Homo sapiens: one gene and its partners. The protein of the gene in region 1 purifies or fractionates together with the protein of each later gene. This does not show direct contact. Each region holds a gene or a part of one and is shown in the gene's direction. Other genes may lie near its edges.

Evidence for each region. Proteins that work in one complex are often made in the same cells at the same time.
Region 2: the proteins of RBM45 (region 1) and RBMX purify together in Homo sapiens (affinity purification with mass spectrometry; 4 studies listed by BioGRID and IntAct, with this or other methods). This does not show direct contact.
Region 3: the proteins of RBM45 (region 1) and FAM120A purify together in Homo sapiens (co-immunoprecipitation; 3 studies listed by BioGRID and IntAct, with this or other methods). This does not show direct contact.

The regions. Positions count from the first base shown.
Region 1 is NC_000002.12:178,107,555-178,115,439, forward strand, and holds the start of RBM45 (RNA-binding protein 45), read left to right. Parts: upstream 1-4,882; 5' UTR 4,883-4,992; coding exon 4,993-5,292; coding exon of another isoform or gene 5,293-5,721; intron 5,722-7,885. UniProt on the Homo sapiens protein: RNA-binding protein with binding specificity for poly(C). May play an important role in neural development.
Region 2 is NC_000023.11:136,872,961-136,877,757, reverse strand, and holds the end of RBMX (RNA-binding motif protein, X chromosome), read left to right. Parts: intron 1-1,102; coding exon 1,103-1,255; intron 1,256-2,172; coding exon 2,173-2,287; intron 2,288-2,374; coding exon 2,375-2,500; intron 2,501-2,589; coding exon 2,590-2,672; intron 2,673-3,305; coding exon 3,306-3,616; 3' UTR 3,617-4,297; downstream 4,298-4,797.
Region 3 is NC_000009.12:93,559,653-93,566,612, forward strand, and holds the end of FAM120A (constitutive coactivator of PPAR-gamma-like protein 1), read left to right. Parts: intron 1-1,456; coding exon 1,457-1,598; intron 1,599-2,555; coding exon 2,556-2,652; intron 2,653-3,352; coding exon of another isoform or gene 3,353-3,367; exon of another isoform or gene 3,368-3,911; intron 3,912-4,576; coding exon 4,577-4,888; 3' UTR 4,889-6,460; downstream 6,461-6,960. UniProt on the Homo sapiens protein: Component of the oxidative stress-induced survival signaling. May regulate the activation of SRC family protein kinases. May act as a scaffolding protein enabling SRC family protein kinases to phosphorylate and activate PI3-kinase.

The DNA.
Region 1 (7,885 bases):
CAACAGCCCTGTAAGATGGATACCATTAACATCTCTATTTTTATAGATGTAGAAAACGAGGCAAACAGAAATTAAGTGACTTGTTTACGGTCACAGATTGGTGAGCAGTGGAGAAGAATTAATATTCAATCTATAATCTTATAGGTTTAACAATTCCTTTTTTTTTCTTTTTTTTTTTTTTTTTTGAGACGGAGTCTCACTCTGTCGCCCAGGCCGGAGTGCCGTGGTGTGATCTCGGCTCACTGCAACCTCCGCTTCCCGGGTTCAAGTGATTCTCCTGCCTCAGCCTCCTGAGTAGCTAGGATTACAGGCATGCACCACTATGCCTGGATAATTTTTGTATTTTTAGTAGAGACGGGGTTTCACCATGTTGGTCAGGCTGGTCTTGAACTCCTGACCTCGTGATCCGCCTGCCACGGCTTCCCAAAATGCTGGGATTAGAGGCGTAAGCCACCATGCCAAGCCAACAATTACTTTTTAAGGGTGACTTGGCAACCCTGTGTTGAACACAATATCTGTAACACTGCAGATGCTTACAACTTTTTACCCAACTGAGAGTGCTTAAAGAGGAATAGGTGGGTACATACCATTGCTATGTCTTATTTTTCATAAAAAGAGAAATGCTAATGAAACACTTTTTAATATTGGCATTAAAAACGGCCAGCGGTTCCTCCCTTTGCCCCCGCTCCCAGCAGTCACCTGGAACAGCCACCTGGCCAGAGTCCACGCCTCAACTTCGAGGCTGGCGATCCAGAAAGAGCACCTCACGCCCTGGGCTGCAAGCGCAGCCGGACGCGCGCGACCAGTGATCGCCAGCCAATGGCAAGCCGGGACCCGGTCCCACTGCTGATTGGCCCCCAGATCCCGTGGGATCTCACCTCTCGCAGAGGCTTAAAGCCTTGTACTTGCTGTGCAGTGCTTGGCTCTGCGTGCCCGCTGTCCAGTAGCTGTGGATAGCTCTTGAGCTGTCGGAAACTGGCTAATTCAACTGAAGAAATGAATTTTTAATTATTTTCATTATAATTCATTTTAATTTTAGGTAATTTTAAGTAATTTTAATTTAAATAGCCACAGTCACCAGATGCTTTAATGAAACTATTCTAAGTGGTATCTATGAATTTTGTCCTGTGATCTACACATTTAAAAGATGTATGTCATCAAGTTGAATCAAAAGGAGCAGGCATACTGTGAAAAAAAAAATCAGGTGTTAGATATTATTCTCAAACTCAAAGGCATGCAAACTCAAGAAGGAGACTACCATTTCTTGAGTGCCTGCCACAGGTCAGACTAAGTAATTGCCTACGTTATCAGTAGACAGTAGCCTTACAGATGGGTCAAATGGAAACTCTGGATCATATTCATATACAACAATCTGAAAGCTACTAATTGATCACCAATAAGTCTTAGTTTTAAAACCTATAAAAAATTTGCAAATAGGGCGAAATATTTTTAGTTAATTGATGTAACATATGAAGACTAATATCACCAACTAAGTAAGCCTCATTGTACTTCAGTTTGGAAAATAATGACAAAAATTTACTATTTGCTCCTGGCATTTCAAAAATTAGTCACAATATCACCTCTCATTTTTAAAAAGAAAAGATTTGAGGGAGAAAAAGTTTCAAAAAAATCTGAATTTCATGTGAAACAAACATGTGTGCACATTCTAATAACAGTGCTTTATAGGCTACATGTTCTAAAGCCTTGAAAAAAATTTAATCTGCAAATGCCCAGCACCTGGTTTCTTCTATTAAGCAGACTAACTAAAAATCATTCTTTTAAACCTCAGACATTTTTAGGTGTTTTAGTTACATGTAATTCATGTTCAAAGGTTTTATGATTTGAAATATAACAATTTGGTCATTGAGTGATGAAATGTTCTAAAATTGATTGCGATGATGCTTGCACAATGCTGTGAAGGCACTAAAAACGATTTAATTGAATACATCAAATGAGTGAATTGTATGATGTAAGAATTAGAACTCACTGGGTGTGGTGGGTCTCACCTGTAATCCCAGCTACTTAGGAGGCGTAGGCAAGAGAATCACTTAAGGCCAGTTCGAGATTGCCCTAGGCAACATAGTGAGACACCAATCCCTTAAAAAAAAAAAAAAAAAAGAAAAGAAAAAATAAGATAAGAAGAAGAATTATATCTCAATAAATCTGTTTAAAATAAATACATGTCATGAAGAAAATGTACTTACTTTTTTTAATTTATAAGTAAATTTCTAATTTTCCTTGAATATGTCATATTTCACATAATTGGATAGTAAAGAAATTTTGCTTTTCTGGCATTTTCCAATATTTGCGTTCCTGGTTTTGTTTTATGCAATCTTTTATCTTTTTTTGAGAAAAGAATTAACTGTTCTCAATAACAGCCTAAAATTTTCAGGACACCAATCAGTAGTCTTATTTCACAAAGAATAGAGATTGCCCAGTCAGGACAATTTAAGAAAATTACACATTTTCCACTAGATGGCACTGGTTTGCAAATAATATTGCTTTGCAGTTCCTCTCATCAACAAAACTCACACTATCAAATTATTTTCATTTACCTTGATTGTTGTGGGTAGGAAAAAGAGAAATGGAAAGTCAAGAAAAGATACTTCCTAGAGTTGTTCAGCCTCAGGGTAAACAGAACCCTCACTACAGATATGGAATGTAATACAAGGAGAAATTATAAAAATCTTAGTGCTAAATCCAGGGTGACAACCCACAATCCCTGACTCTCAGTAGTCATCACACAACTGTATAATATCAGTGGTGGGGGAGTGGATACCATAGTCAAAGGGAACAAGAAAATTAATCTCAATTATACCATTATACAAATATTATCTCATTTGATCTCTAAACTATGAACTCCATATATATTATCTTATATGAGCATAACTATATAAGGCTAAATGATTAACTCTGTGGGGGAAGAAGAGTAATTATTTTGTTCAATACTACATCCCTTCAGTATAACACAGTGCCTAACACATAGTAGATAGTCAAAAATACTTATTAAGTGAATGGGTGAATTAATTAAACTTGATAGTCATGCTCCTGCGTAGCTATTAGGCGGCTATCAAGCTTAACTAATCCAACCACAAAATAATATGTATTACCTATTTAGTAGGTAATATTATTCCTACTTTACAGTTAATGAAACCGAAGCTGCAAGTATTAAGTAACTTGTCCAGGCTCACACAATTCAGTAGCAAAACCATGTAACATAATCTGATATTACTTTGCATTATATATTTACATGTAAGATTTCCACAGTGGGGGAAAACAAGCCCTCGGGACATGTCTTTCCTGTTCCTCATTATATATCTAGCTCCTGGCATAGAGCCTGGCACACAGTTGGAGTACAATAAGTATTTATCTGGTTGACTTCATAGCAACCTAGGTCTTAGCATCCAGAACTTGTTCATTTGAAGAACTCCGCCCTCGGTCTACTTAGGGGTTTATTCCTTTCACTTCATTCCAATGCCACTGCTAAATCCAGGCCTTGTTTCTGGATTTCTACTGGGTTTCTGACCTCTCCTCTAAGGCTTGTTAACAAGAAGGCATTTCCCACTTTGCTTGCACTCTATGATTTCTCTTAGTTCCACAGCTGAGCAGTCCACCCTCACTGCCCTCCAACCCCAGGGTTGCTTGTAGAAGTTGAGTAAATCAACAGATGGAGTTAGTTCTGGGTTTTTTGTTGTTGTTGTTGTTGTTTGAGGTGGAGTCTCGCTCTATCCCCCAGGCTGGAGTGCAGTGGTGCAAACTCTGCTCACTGCAAGCTGTGCCTCCTGGGTTCACACCATTCTCCTGCCTCAGCCTCCTGAGTAGCTGGGACTACAGGTGCCCGCCACCACGCCAAACTAATTTTTTTGTATTTTTTTGGTAGAGACGGGGTTTCACCGTGTTAGCCAGGATGGTCTCGATCTCCTGACCTCGTGATCCGCCCGCCTCGGCCTCCCAAAGTGCTGGGATCACAGACGTGAGCCACTGCGCCTGGCCAAGTTAGTTCTGGTTTTAGTCGTACTTTTTATCTCTATTACTTTGGCTATGCTATAGGCCTCAGTTTCCTCATCTCTAACAAATGACGCTGAAATTGAATGATCTCAAAGCTTCCTTCCAACTCTAATGCTATATAGTTTGAACTCTGTCCTATATTGATCATCTATTGAGCTTATGACCAAGATGGTGACAACTCTCCACTTTGACCAAAACTTAGTTAGGCTCCTTTGAGTCCTCTGCTTGACTAGGCTTGATCTTGGGCTTTCTGTCCTTGTAGAATCCAATTTGAGCAAGAATCCTGCTGAATCAGTGTAGTGAAAATCCTCATTCTTGGTGTCTGACTACCATGGATATCAATCACCCTGGCCTGCCTTCAGCAACTATCCTGTCAAGTTGGTTTAGCCAGAATCCTCCTTAACACTGATGTTCCCTCTTTGTAATTTTCCATCCACTGACCTCCCACCAAGCTTCTTGGTTAGAAATTTGTCCTTATTAGAGTCAAAATTCAGTCCAATCTCTCTCTCCCACTGCAAGACCCCATTGCAGCTGTCCCTGGACCTATCTCCATGGCTCCCTTTGTCAAAGTCGGCCTTCCTGTACCATCTCTAACGAGTGTCATGAATAATTTTTTCTTTAACACTGGAAAGAATCCTTGGCCTTAGGGGTGGGGTAAAGCCAGCGTTGGGAAAGCCTGTGCATTAGGCAGCGCTGTTCTGCCTGCAGGGAACGATTGCACAACTGATAACTTGGGCCTAGGCTCAGCTGGATTTGAGGATTTGAGACTTAGACTGGGTCAGGGTCCCCCGCGTCGCCAGGGGGCGCTGCAGGCCGCTCCCCGGAAGGCCTCATCCTGCGCGGCTGGACAGCGCCTGGCGCCGGACTCCTCTTTCTCCCGGAAGCGGAGCACCGAGCCGGCAAAGGCTTGGGTGTGAGACAGCAGCGGTGGCAGACACCGCAGAAGCAAAGAGCAGTGAGGCTCCTGCATTCGGGTGGAGCACCATGGACGAAGCTGGCAGCTCTGCGAGCGGCGGGGGCTTCCGCCCGGGCGTGGACAGCCTGGACGAACCGCCCAACAGCCGCATCTTCCTTGTGATCAGCAAGTACACACCTGAGTCGGTGCTGAGGGAGCGCTTCTCGCCTTTTGGCGACATCCAGGACATCTGGGTGGTGCGGGACAAGCACACCAAGGAGTCCAAGGGCATTGCTTTCGTCAAGTTCGCCCGCAGCTCACAGGCCTGCAGGGCCATGGAGGAGATGCATGGCCAGTGCCTCGGCCCCAACGACACCAAGCCCATCAAGGTGCGGGTGCCCGGGTCGGGGTGCCCTCGGGGGAAGGAGTGGGCCTCTTGGACCTCCCTTCACCTGCTGCTCTGCCGGGGTGAGGGAGGAGTGGAACATCCGTTCCCGGCAGCTGACCAGACAGCACCTGGCTTGGGGACAGGGGCTGCTTTGAGGAGAGGCTCCCCTCCCACGAAGCTGCGCCGGGTTGCAGGGAAGGGGACGGGATGCGGAGTGTTTGCCCCACGAGAGCGGACCCGGCAGCCGCGGCCACCGGGTGACAGAACAGCAGTGGCTGGGCTTCCCCTCTCCCTCGCCCTCACTAATCCACCAGCTCTTGAGTTCACTGCCAAACTCGTCCTAGCCTACTTTGAGTACTTTTCTGACCTTCCTCTCTCAGATGCCCAGATTTCCATATATAAAAAACGGAAAAACTCTACTTTTCCTCAGGTACAGATGAGGCGTTAACAACTTGACAGAAGTACTTTAAACTGGGGAGGGACCTCTGGTGTTGGACGTTTTCCTAGTACCAGGCGAAAGAATACATGTACAGAAAGAATAAGTGCAGGTGTTTAAAACGGTCACTGTTACATATTCTTCACATTTTGTTATTTTGGAAAATTGTTTTGAATGAGCTCTGTTTCTGAAAGTGTTAATAGCATACATTTGGTTCTTGACCCTTTCTGTTACTGCAACTTTTCTTTGAAAGCAGACCAAAGTAAACTGCCTTAAGAAGAGCCAAATCATTGTGATAATGACACATGGCAGGAAGGATCATTTTGAGGGTTATTTGACATAATATGTGCTGTCAGCACAGTGCCTCACACAGGGTAAGCCCTCAATAATGTCCTTGTTATTGATCAGTAGTAGCCAAGATGTCACAGCTTACTCCCTGTGATCTCAAATCAGGACTCAATCCTGAGAATCTGGCAATTGCTTAAATTGTAGCCTTCGTCTGCCCCATGTAAATAGTTGCTGTGTATGTTATTCTGTTGGTACTTTGCACAAAAATATTTTCTCAATTTTTTAAAAAATTGTTTTCCAAACTGAGAATGGTATTAATATGGATTTATGTAAATAAAGGGCTCAGAGATATTTCAGTCTCTGGAGGTCTTGCTCCATCCACCAAAGAGAAGGAGCCTGGGACTCTACCAACAACACAGTAAACAGTCCCTTCCTCCCACTTCTCCAACCCTCTGAAGTGTGTCAGAGTGACAGCAACAAAATTAATTGTAGGGCCACAGCATACAGGATCAGGAATTGGCAAACTTTTTCTGTAAAGGGCTGACTAGTAAATATTTTAGGCTTTGCAGGCCACATACAGTCTCTGTCACATAACCTTGTCTGTTTTTACAGTCCTTAAAAACTGTAAAAACAATTATTACATCATGGGCTATACCAAAAATGGAGCTGTGGTTTGCTGACCCCTGTACTAGACTAATGAATTTTATCGCTGTCCAATTATGACCTTAGTGGAGAGGATTTTTATATTTTGAGTGTAACATGGCCACAGAGCCCTTGTGGGCAGCCCAAAAAACTGTCCCATATTTGAAATTGATGGACCACCTTCCCCTGATAAATTTCTATAAGAGAAATTAAAGGCCCAACACCGAAATGTACCCTCTCTTTTAGCCTCAGAGAAATTAAAGATCTTGTTCCCAAAAAGAAATAAACTTTACTATTTTCTTTGTCACATTTTTGACTATTCAGTTTTAGCCAGAAGGTTGTTTCACTGTAGTACCTAGCTAGACAGTCTAGTTTCTGTTTCTTTTTCTTTTTTTGAGACAGAATCTCACTCTGTCACCCAGGCTAGAGTGCAGTGGCTTCTTGATCACAGCTCACTGTAGCCTCCACCTCCCAGACTCAAGCAATCCTCTTGCCTCATCCTCCCTCTCGAGTAGCTGGGACTACAGATGTGCACCACCATGCCCAGCTTATTTTTTTTATTTTTCTTAGAGACAGGGTCTCACTATGTTGCCTAAGCAGGTCTCAAGCTCCTGGACTCAAGTGAGCCTCCCGTTTCATCCTCCCATTACAGTTGTGAGCCACCACACCCTAACAGACTAGTTTCATTCAGCAGCTGCAGCTTGAGCCATCTTCAACTGGAACACTCTTGGGTTGTTTTCAGCATTTCCAGTTAAATTAATTCAGCTTCAATATTTCTATTGTACTTTGCTTTTACAAAGTTTCAGAGGATCTGTAAGACAACAATATTATCTTACCAGCCCTCAGCCAGAAAAGATTGTCCAAGTAAAAGTTATTCTGTGACCAACTATGTTATCTGGCGGAAAGGGGGAAACCTAGAAAACAGAAGAAAAAAATCTTGGCTGTAGTTTTGCAAGAATGCTTCTTATCTAGAGCCTATGAACACTCAGTCTATGAAGGTAAAAATTTATGGGAGAAATCTACCATGAGGAGGTTAATTATTTTACGTATGTTCTACATAGACTGTCTCCTTTATCAGAGATTTGAAACACCTCAGTCCTCTAAAATATAGAAATCTGTGCTCTGATGGCACTTCCAATTTCATCTTACCTGAGGTTCTTTTTTTTTTCTCTAGTGTCTTTGCATATACTTAAAGCTTCCCTATTTGTATTTCCCTATTTACCATTTA
Region 2 (4,797 bases), on another chromosome or scaffold:
GAAGCATGTTTTAGATTATGGTGTTAAACCGTGGACAGTGTTACTTCTTGTCCAAGTAGTTCACTCTGTAGGAAAGGCATTTAAAAATTGATAGGCCAGGGTGTTGGACATGAAAATGAAATCATTTTTATTTTTTAAAGTTAGCTGGGCGTGGTGGCAGGTGCCTGTAATCCCAGCTACTACGGAGGCTGAGGCAGAAGAATCACTTGAACTTGGGAGGCAGAGGTTGCAGTGAGTTGAGATCGTGCCACTGTACTCCAGCCTGGGGGAACAGCGAGACTCCCTCTCAAAAAAAAAAAAAAAAAGTTTTTTAAGACTACCTTCAGTTCTTATTTCCCCAGTTTCTATGACTGCAGTGCATGCTCCATCAAGTACAAGTGAAACTAGACTACCCAAATCAATAATGGTTTTTTTTTGGGGGGGGGGGGGTAGAGTTTAGCACTTGTTGCCCAGGCTGAAGTGCAGTGGCACGATCTTGGCTCACCACAACCTCTGCCTTCCAGGTTCAGGCGATTGTCCTGCCTCAGCCTCCCAAGTAGCTGGGATTACGGGCATGCACCACCACACCTGGATTTTTGTATTTTTAGTAGAGACAGGATTTTACCGTGTTAGACTGGTCTTGAACTCCTGACCTCAGGTGATCCGCCCGCCTTGGCCTCCCAAAGTGCTGGGATTACAGGCGTGAGCCATTGTGCCCGGCCCAATAATGGTCATATTCTTGATGAAGCAAAGAAAACTTTTATAGTGGCCGAGCCTGGTGGCTCACACCTGCAATCCCAGCACTTTGGGAGGCTGAGGCAGGCGGATCACAAGGTCAGGAGTTCGAGACCAGCCTGGCCAGCATGGTGAAATCCTGTCTCTACTTAAAAAAAACCACCAAAAATTAGCTGGGTGTGGTGGCGCACACCTGTAATCCCAGCTACTCGGGAGGCTGAGGCAGGAGAATTGCTTGAACCCAGGAGGCAGAGGTTGCAGTGAGCCGAGATGAAGCCACTGCACTCCAGCCTGGGCGACAGTGAGACTCTCAAAAAAAAAAAAAAACTTTTATATCTTTCTTGATTCTTGTGAGTAGTAATATTTTTCTTTTCTATTTTTGATGCAGATGACGGTGGATATTCCATGAATTTTAACATGAGTTCTTCCAGGGGACCACTCCCAGTAAAAAGAGGACCACCACCAAGAAGTGGGGGTCCTCCTCCTAAGAGATCTGCACCTTCAGGACCAGTTCGCAGTAGCAGTGGAATGGGAGGAAGAGGTAAATGTTCCATGTATGATGATTTATGCTACTACCGTAACACAAAGAATTGAGAGGTGAATGATGCTTAAAATTTTAATTGGCCAGGCGTGGTGGCTCACGCCCGTAATCCTAGCACTTTGGGAGGCCGCGGCAGACGGATCACGGTGTCAAGAGATCAAGACCATCCTGGCCAATGTGGTGAAACCCCGTCTCTACTAAAAAATACAAAAATTAGCTGAGTGTAGGGCGGGTTCCTGTAATCCCCGCTACTTGGGAGGCCGAGGCAGGAGAATTGTTTGAACCTGGGAGGCAGAGGTTGCAGGGAACCGAGATCATGCCACTGTCCTCCAGCGTGGCAACAGAGTGAGATTCTGTCTCCAAAAAAAAAAAAAAAACAAAAAAAAAAAACTTTATTCATGGAGTCTGGGTGCGGTGGCTCACGCCTGTAATCTTGACACTTTGGGAGGCTGAGGTGGGCAGATCATGAGGCCCGGAGTTCGAGGCCAGTCTGGCCAACGTGGTGAAACCCTGTCTCTACTAAAGATACAAAAGTTAGCTGGGCGTGGTGGTGGGCACCTGTAATCCCAGCTACTCGGGAGGCTGAGGCAGGAGAATCACTTGAACCCAGAAGGCAGAGGTTGCAGTGAGCCAAGATTGCGCGACTGCACTCCAGCCTGGGTGACAGAGCGAGACTCCCATCTCAAAAAAAAAAAACAAAACTTTTAGTCATGTGTTCTAGGTGATTAGATAAATGGAATTAGCACTGAAAAAAATTTAAAATATGAATGGGAAATTGTAGAAAATAAAATTAGGTGATCTAGCCTCCGTAATGTCATCTTTGAAGTCAGTCTCATTATTTTTCATAGCCTGAATGTAAGTTCACGTTTTAACTTTTTTCTCTGGCTATGTTTAAAAAAATGATATTTTTCCTTAAGCTCCTGTATCACGTGGAAGAGATAGTTATGGAGGTCCACCTCGAAGGGAACCGCTGCCCTCTCGTAGAGATGTTTATTTGTCCCCAAGAGATGATGGGTATTCTACTAAAGACAGGTAATAGAAAAGTGCAGCTTTTTAAATTAATAATTAAGGTTGAAGGAAAGCTTATCAAAAGCATAAACCAAAACTTTTGCTTTGTAGCTATTCAAGCAGAGATTACCCAAGTTCTCGTGATACTAGAGATTATGCACCACCACCACGAGATTATACTTACCGTGATTATGGTCATTCCAGTTCACGTGATGACTATCCATCAAGAGGATATAGGTAAGTGACTTTGCTTCTGTGGCTTACATGTAAGAAAAGTTGCAATGAAAGTTGATTCTCTGGGACTTAAAGGTTTCTCTTTAATTTAGCGATAGAGATGGATATGGTCGTGATCGTGACTATTCAGATCATCCAAGTGGAGGTTCCTACAGAGATTCATATGAGAGTTATGGTAAGATACTGGTTAAGGGTCTTTAGTATCACCAGCTTGAGTTTTTAGGTTCGTGAGCCAGTTTATTAGGCTGTGTGGTGCTTGCTTTTAAAGGGATGTTTGCTTGCTTTTAAAGGGGTAACTTTATCAGCTGGGCTTTTCCTAGTTTTGTGAGGGGCTTTTTTTGTTTTTCTAAGTTTCTTTTGAGGCTGTTTGCTTGCTTTGGAGGGGATTTTGCTTGCTTAAATTGGCAGCCTTATGTGTTTTCCCCCAACAGTGAAAATACAATTTAAAAATTTTATTAACAAGATCAAATATTTACCATTGCAATATGAAGGCAAGTTCTACAGTTCAAAATTGCAACTTATCACTGGAAAGTGGCTGAGTGTCTACTATAAAATAACAAGCTCTCTGGAATATCCTCTTGAAATACACACCGTCTTCAGTCTTTTCAAACAAACATTAAAATGAATCCAATTCCATATCTCAGCAGATGAGCAAATCCCTGTTATGGCCAGCAATGGCAGAGTTTAAAACCTCCCACCCAGTTGAGAAAGTAAACTTTTAATACAAGAATTCTGTAAATTCAGATTTAAAATGTTGTATATATACAATTTATAGTGTTGCCATATTACCTGACCATTGACCCTGCAGGTAACTCACGTAGTGCTCCACCTACACGAGGGCCCCCGCCATCTTATGGTGGAAGCAGTCGCTATGATGATTACAGCAGCTCACGTGACGGATATGGTGGAAGTCGAGACAGTTACTCAAGCAGCCGAAGTGATCTCTACTCAAGTGGTCGTGATCGGGTTGGCAGACAAGAAAGAGGGCTTCCCCCTTCTATGGAAAGGGGGTACCCTCCTCCACGTGATTCCTACAGCAGTTCAAGCCGCGGAGCACCAAGAGGTGGTGGCCGTGGAGGAAGCCGATCTGATAGAGGGGGAGGCAGAAGCAGATACTAGAAACAAACAAAACTTTGGACCAAAATCCCAGTTCAAAGAAACAAAAAGTGGAAACTATTCTATCATAACTACCCAAGGACTACTAAAAGGAAAAATTGTGTTACTTTTTTTAAATTCCCTGTTAAGTTCCCCTCCATAATTTTTATGTTCTTGTGAGGAAAAAAGTAAAACATGTTTAATTTTATTTGACTTTCGCATTGCTTTTCAACAAGCAAATGTTAAATGTGTTAAGACTTGTACTAGTGTTGTAACTTTCCAAGTAAAAGTATCCCCTAAAGGCCACTTCCTATCTGATTTTTCCCAGCAAATGAGGCAGGCAATTCTAAGATCTTCCACAAAACATCTAGCCATCTAAAATGGAGAGATGAATCATTCTACCTATACAAACAAGCTAGCTATTAGAGGGTGGTTGGGGTATGCTACTCATAAGATTTCAGGGTGTCTTCCAACTGAAATCTCAATGTTCTCAGTACGAAAAACCTGAAATCACATGCCTATGTAAGGAAAGTGCTATTCACCCAGTAAACCCAAAAAAGCAAATGGATAATGCTGGCCATTTTGCCTTTCTGACATTTCCTTGGGAATCTGCAAGAACCTCCCCTTTCCCTTCCCCCAATAAGACCATTTAAGTGTGTGTTAAACAACTACAGAATACTAAATAAAAAGTTTGGCCAAAACCAACCATGAAGCTGCAAAGGTGCTTGCTCTTACTGTTTCAAATTTTTGCAACTCTGTAGTGTCTCACTTTTAAAGGAACAGCTTGATTGCAAAGGAGAAAATAGATAAGCAATGAAGTTATCTCCAACTTCCTAAAGGCTTATGACTTCTAAAAAGTGAATCTATCAGCATTCCACATCAGATTTAAAGCATCAAATGCCTGTGAAACAGCAAAGATGGTAAGCAAAGCAAACTAGTTTTTCCGTCTAAGTCGAAATTGAACACTTACCTTCCTCATAGTACAGTGAAACATACTGTACCTCAAGGCAATGGAAATGCCTTCTAGATTAAAAAAAACTTTTGGAAAAAAGAAATATTCAATAGCGTATTAGAAGTCCTCCAAATTCAACACTTGGATTTTTTTTTTTTTTTTTTAAAGCATGTGTGACACTTAAAGGCTTTATTAATAGAGCTGTTGTTTACCAATGGCGATCTGGGGCTTGGGAGGGGGTATTTTTTTCAAA
Region 3 (6,960 bases), on another chromosome or scaffold:
TCCTCATGCAGCTCGCAGCCATGTTTCCTCTCTGCTTCTTGATTTGCTTCAGCTCCTTCTAGTGCCTTGAAACTGAAGCTGGCCTGTAGTTGGGATCAAAGATGGAGGGAGAGGGGAGATTGTACTATGGATAGTGTAGGGCAAGAAGTGAATTCTTACACTGGAATGATAAAAGGAACCTGCTTCCTGAGTTTCTTAAAATTGTGTCTGGAACTCAGATTTGCACTGCCTAGTATAGTAGCTGCTGGCCACTGCTCTGTTGAGCACTTAAGCTCTGGCTAGAACATGTAAAATACATATCAGATTTTAAAACTTAAAATGGGAAGCAGACTAAAATAGCTAATCAATTTTTTATCTTGGGCCAGGCACAGTGGCTCATGCCTATAATCTCAGCATTTTGGGAGGCCAAGGAGAGAGAATTGCTTGAGGCAGGAGTTCAAGACCAGCCTGGGCAATATAGTGAGACCCCTGCCTCTACAAAAAATTTTAAAAATTAGCCAGGTATGGTGGTGCACACCTGTAGTCCCAGCTACTCAGGAGGCTGAGGCGGGAGGATCGCTAGAGCTGGGAGGTCAAGGCTGCAGTGAGCCGTGATTGTGCCACTGCACTCCAGCCTGGGTGACAGAGCGAGACCCTGTCTTAAAAAAAAAAAAATCTTGACTACATGTTGAAATAGTATTATTTTGGATACATTGAGTTAAATAAATACATTTTTAAAACTTCTTTCCTCTGTTTCTTTGTACATTTTTCATGTGGCTACAAAAAAATATAAGCTTGTTGTAGGTTTCTGTTGGACAGTGCTGAATTGCCACAGCTAACACCAAGATGATAGTTGTTTATTATCCATTCTCACTGTCAGAAAACAAGATGCTTGGGGCTCTGGTTTTGTTTGCTTATTTTTTTGTTTTTAAACAGAAGTTTTGCTGCCAATTAGCAATTAGAGAATTTTCTTAGGTCAGAAAACTTACAATTTGCAGTAATCAAAAGAAGTTAGTAAATTCTATTTGTGACTCTGCTTATGGAAATTCTAATTTAAAAACACAGTAAGAAATACAGGCTAGATTTATTGATTCTATGATGTTCAGTTAAGGTAGTAAACCTAGAAGTATTCGCCTAAAGAGAAAAACATTCTTGAGTTTGCAGATTGCCATCTTGGTAATATAGAAGGCATGCCATATGCACCTGATGACACTTTATTGTATCTGTTTCTATCTAAAAAGCCTTGCACATTTGCAGTTGTAACCTAATTCAGTTCTCATGGGTTCTTCACAGTAGTTTAAAGTCAAACAGTGTGCACATAGATACACTACATAATAAAAAATTGTACAAAACAGGAGAAAGTAGCTTCATAGTAAATATAAACCAAAACTGAAAAGAAGTTTCTTGCTTGTATCTTTTTGCTATTCTTAATTCTGTGATTGTAAAGATTTTGTCTTTTTGTATATTTTTTATGCAGGAGTCCAACCTATACCTTCTCAGGGAGGCAAACTAGAAATAGCTGGCACTGTGGTTGGCCATTGGGCTGGGAGCAGGCGGGGCCGTGGGGGCCGGGGGCCTTTCCCCCTGCAGGTGGTTTCTGTCGGAGGACCAGCTAGAGGGTAAGTTCTGAGCCACGAAAATGTCTTTTGTATAAGTAAAGAAAACAGCTTCTAACTTGCTTTTTTTTGGAAGTTTAAGTAGGAACATTTTTATATCATTAGATACATTCTTCTTTAATATCATTTGTATTTAATTATTTAGTTTTTATTTATTTATTTATCTTAAGATGGGGTCTCACTGTCACCCAGGCTAGAGTGCAGTGGCACAATCACAGTTCAGTGTAGCCTTGACTTTCTGGGCTCCATCGATCCTCCCACTTCAGCCTCCTGAGTAGCTGGGACCACAGTCATGTGCCACCATGCCTGGCTAATTTTTGTATTTTTGGTAGTGACAGGGTTTCGCCATGTTGCCCAGGTTGGTCTTGAACTCCTGAGCTCAACCAATCCACCCACCTCGGCCTTGCAAAGTGCTGGGATTACAGGTGTGAGCCACTGCACACAGCCTTTAACATCATTTATAATGTTTGCATAGGATCCCATTTATAGTATTATGTAATTATTTAATTAACCATTAAATAATTAACAATTATTAAATAATTAACCATACAATTTTCAATTAACCAGGTGCCTTAATATTTTTAAAGTATTAGTTTTCAAATCAAATGCATTGGATATGGGAGATGTAGCTCAGGGGTAGAGCATTTGACTGCAAATGCATTGGATATGAACCAAAAAAATAAGATTGATTCCTTGGAATAAATCTTCCCTATGATCATACTTAACCTGTTTACGCCTAGTGTTCCATTATTGGAACGCAAAGCATGTGGGAGTTCTTTATGTCCTACTGCTCAAGGTCTGACTGCAAAAATTCAACAAATTGCAACTTCCGGCATAAATGGGTTAATTCAGTGCTTCATAAAACGTAAGATTGGATGGCTTTAAAATCATTTGATACTATTTTAAATGTTGTCTGTAACAGATTTAAGTGTTTACTGTTGTCCTTTTTCATTCATTTAGGCGTCCAAGAGGAGTTATTTCCACCCCAGTGATTAGAACATTTGGAAGAGGTGGAAGGTACTATGGCAGAGGTTACAAAAACCAGGCAGCAATTCAGGTAAGAAGACAACATGATGTTTGTGCCAGTTCAATGCCCTCAGGGATGTCTCCTGTCTGAGCTTGCACTTCTAGTACCTGCGCTCAGACAGAAGAGCTGTGAGGGTAATGCTTTAGCTGTCAAGTGTCTAACACAGTAACTGGCACACAGCTGCTCACCAAATGTCCATTCCCTAGAGCCCAGATCATTTTGCTGTTAAGTGCCTCTTCAGGTTGTCTCTCCCCTTTGCCATGACCCTGTGTCTCTGGTAGCTTCCCGCCTGGTGTGACACGATGGGCTTGGCTTACCTTGGGCATTGCCTAGCCCTGACAGAGCTGGAACAGCCACTTGTAGTTTCTTTTTTTTTCTTTCTTTCTTTTTCTTTTTTTTTTTTTTTTTGAGATGGAGTCTCGCTCTATTGCCCAGGCTGGAGTGCCGTGGCACAATCTCCGCTCACTGCAACCTCCACTTCCCGGGTTCAAGCGATTCGCTTGCGTCAGCCTCCCGAATAGCTGGGATTACAGGTGTGTGCCACGACACTCGGCTAATTTTTGTAGTTTTAGTAGAGTTGCAGTTTCACCATGTTGGCCAGGCTGGTCTCAAACTCCTGACCTCAGGTGATCCGCCCGCCTTGGCCTCCCAAAGTGCTAGAATTACAGGCGTGAGCCACCATGCCCAGCGGTCCTGCTATATTTTTATGTTTTATATTATTTGTCTCAAGGTTCAAAGAAAATGACGATTGCATTGATTCATGGAGAAGGGTGCGTTAATATTTCTGAACTTTAGGGTTGGAAGGTAAAATAGAGGATGTTGTAGGAGAGTATGTGGGGACCCTTGGTTTATGGGGGCCATTCCTTAGGCAAGGGTCACATCTCCATCTGGGTTGATGATTTTGTCATCAACAAGGCAAATACCCTGGTTTTCAGAATGGGAGGCCTAGAAGATGCTGGAAGGTACCACCATCTTTGTTGGGAAGGGAATGCGATGACGAGCTGGAAGGTTCCTGTTCTCGTCTGTAAAATGACTGTTTGAAGGTGAAAAACATCCATGTTTTCTTCAGCACCGAGTCAGTCTATGACAGTGGCTCTCAGCCCTGGTGATTGGCCCCCAAGGGACATTTGGAGACGTTGATTGTCAAGACTTGGTGTGGGCACTGGATTTTAATGGGTGAAGCCTAGACATTTTAACGGGTGAAGACAACATGATGTTTGTGCTGCTAAACACCCTACGGTGTGTGGGACAGCCCCATCACGGAGAGTGGACAGAGCCAGCGTATCATATGCTAAGGTTGAGGAGCCCTGGTCTAATGATAGGAGCAATTCAAGATCTGTCTTCACTGCCTTCACAGAGAGCCATGTCTTTCAGAAAATGTGCTGGATTAGTCTCAAGGACCATTTTTTTCAGAGGCTTATTTTTAAATCTGTTCAGAGGAGTGGGGAAGACCCATTCAGAAGAGTTATTTCACAAACACGTGGCAATTATCAGTGCAGATTTCTTGTTAAGGTTCCCTAGCAATGACTGTATTTCCCCAGTAGAAATGGGGTGTGTGTGCTGCTGCACATCACAGGCAGATGTGGGAGACCCTGTTTGTTTTGTGGCAGTGGGAACAGTCGCAATTTTAGAGAGGACTTATTGAGGGGCATTTGTTACTTTAAACAATTTAGTGCCATACAAAGGATTAGACAGAGCTCCTGAAGGGGGAATCTCCCTCATTTTCAGGGTGTTAACTACAGAGGAGTTGAGGGAAGGGGCCATGGAGGGAACTGACTGAGACAGGTAGAGCATCTACCGCCCAAAAGTCAAAGCAAAGACAGGGTTAGAAGGACCCAGCTGGGCATTTTCTGCTCTTGAATCTGCAGAGAGTGTCATTAGGCCAAAATTGGCATCCTCTCTCTTCTGTTTATCAGAAACCACCTTCTCATTTGTTGTCCTTCATTTTAAACAGGGCAGACCTCCTTATGCTGCTTCAGCAGAAGAAGTGGCCAAAGAACTTAAGTCAAAATCTGGGGAATCGAAGTCCTCTGCTATGTCTTCAGACGGGTCCCTGGCTGAAAACGGAGTGATGGCCGAGGAGAAGCCGGCTCCCCAGATGAACGGGAGCACGGGTGACGCCAGGGCCCCCAGCCACTCTGAAAGTGCCTTGAATAATGACTCTAAAACGTGCAATACAAATCCTCATTTAAATGCACTAAGTACAGACAGCGCTTGCCGCAGAGAAGCTGCTCTGGAGGCAGCTGTCTTAAATAAAGAAGAGTAAACTTATTTTTTATAGAGGGTGAAGGATGCTGGAAGGGTAAGGATTTAGGAATATCTGGAGAGAAAGAGAGCCTGCAGTTATGTACATTTTGTCCTTTCCGTAAGAGAAAAATGAGGACTTTGGAAATTCAGATCCCTCTTTGATATCAGAGATTTAAACAACACATTTTTAGTTTTAACCAGTTGTAGTCAAAATGCTACAATAAAACAAAAAAGAGAAAGAAAATGAAGAGCATTTGACTCCCGCACTTAAAATGAAGTACACATAAAGTTTAAACTGGTTATGACAAAAGCCTTTAGTTGTGTTTCTTGAACTATAAAGAAAACAAATTTTGGCAGTCTTTAAGTATATATAGCTTAAAATATAATTTTTAGCATTTGGCACCATATGTATGCCATTATATTTGATTTTGCATTACTGTTTCACAATGAAGCTTTCTTTAAGGCTTTGATTTTTATGATTATGAAAGAAATAAGGCACAACCACAGTTTTTCTTTCTTAAATTTCATCACTGTTGATGTGGTTCTTTTGTGTTAAAAAAAAAAAGTGCAACTATCAAAACTAAAAAATTATAGAGTAATATTGCCGTTCTGCTGATTTTAAATATACAATACATCATACATACTTTACAAGCAAGTTAAATGGAGATAAAGTTGAAATCATAGAAGATGCAAATGACCTTTCAAAATCAACACAATGTGTTCTGAAACTTTCGTGACTAATACCATGCATCTGTGATCAATGAACTATGTGGTTTTGAATCGGATGTAGACCATTAGTACTACTACTTGAGCTAAACTTCTGCATGGTTCATAATTTTTAAAGTGTGTAGTTAATATGCATGTTATCGTCCTTTCTTCCATTCTTAACAGTATGTGCCCATTTGCAAAACAAAAATGCTAATAATCAGTAATAGTCCTATAAAAGATGTTAACTCTGTTTAGTCATTGACTGATCTTGCTCTAACCTTAAAATTTTGTGATTATTGACCTCTGTTGCATTTATTCTAAAGCCCCCCAAAAATTATCTAGCCGTTTCGAATATCAACATTACCCTGGTGTATTCACTGCTGTATGCATTATTGTTCTTTGTTGCTGTTTTATGCCTTCATATTAGCAAATATGAAATTCTGTGAAAAAAAACCCTTTGATCTTAAAAAAAAAAAAACCACCCCCCCCTTCTGTAGCAGGAAACAAATTGCTTGTTCTTGAGAACTTTCCCATCAAGAATTTAGTAGAAGCAGGTATACTTCTATCATTTTGATGTTTTTGTTAATGTTTCCAAACAATGTACTTTGAAATCAGAATCACTTCTTATCGTTTTCATATACTTCTGATGCTCTTCATCACATTAGTGATCAGAAATGAGGTGTAATTCCCCAACCCCTGCCCGCAAGAGCTAAGTAGGATCTTACTGTAAGTTGAAGGGAGTTTTGCCCTAACTCATGGATTGTGCAAGAATGAACTGCTGTTGGGTTTGATTGACTGTCGATGGATTGTGGTGTGGTGTATCTGAAGGCTATTGAATGCAACTTACAATGCTTAATAAAAATCTTTATTCTTTTAGTATAAAGTATGGCGTGGCTTTTAAATTCACTTGTAAAAGCTAATTTTATAGAGGTTTAATTCAAATCGAAACAACTACTGAAAAGATCAGAAAACCAAAGTTGAAAAATATTTTACCTTTTCAAAGTAATTCCAGGTTTCCGGCTTAGAGGGACATTAATATATGATTAATTTGTTTGATAGCTCAGTTTCAAGCAACCAAGGGGATAAAAAAATTCTGTTTGATAAAGCAGACTTACAGAAGAGGTTTTTTTAAGCCCTGAGGAAGCAATAAATTTGACTCCACCACGTTTTAAAAGCTGGATGTTACAAGTATAGTCCGTTTTTCATGCCATCCTTTTGACTGAAGGCTCTTCTCTGCAGCCTGATATGAGGTCCCCGTACCCAGGTCCGCCGAGCGCCTGGAGAAAGCGCCCCGTGCTGCCCTCTAGCGGGGGATGGTGGGCTAACGGCGCCGGAGGCGGCCAGGAGAGCTGCGGCGATCCCGCTCCAGGGAGGGGCTGGCGC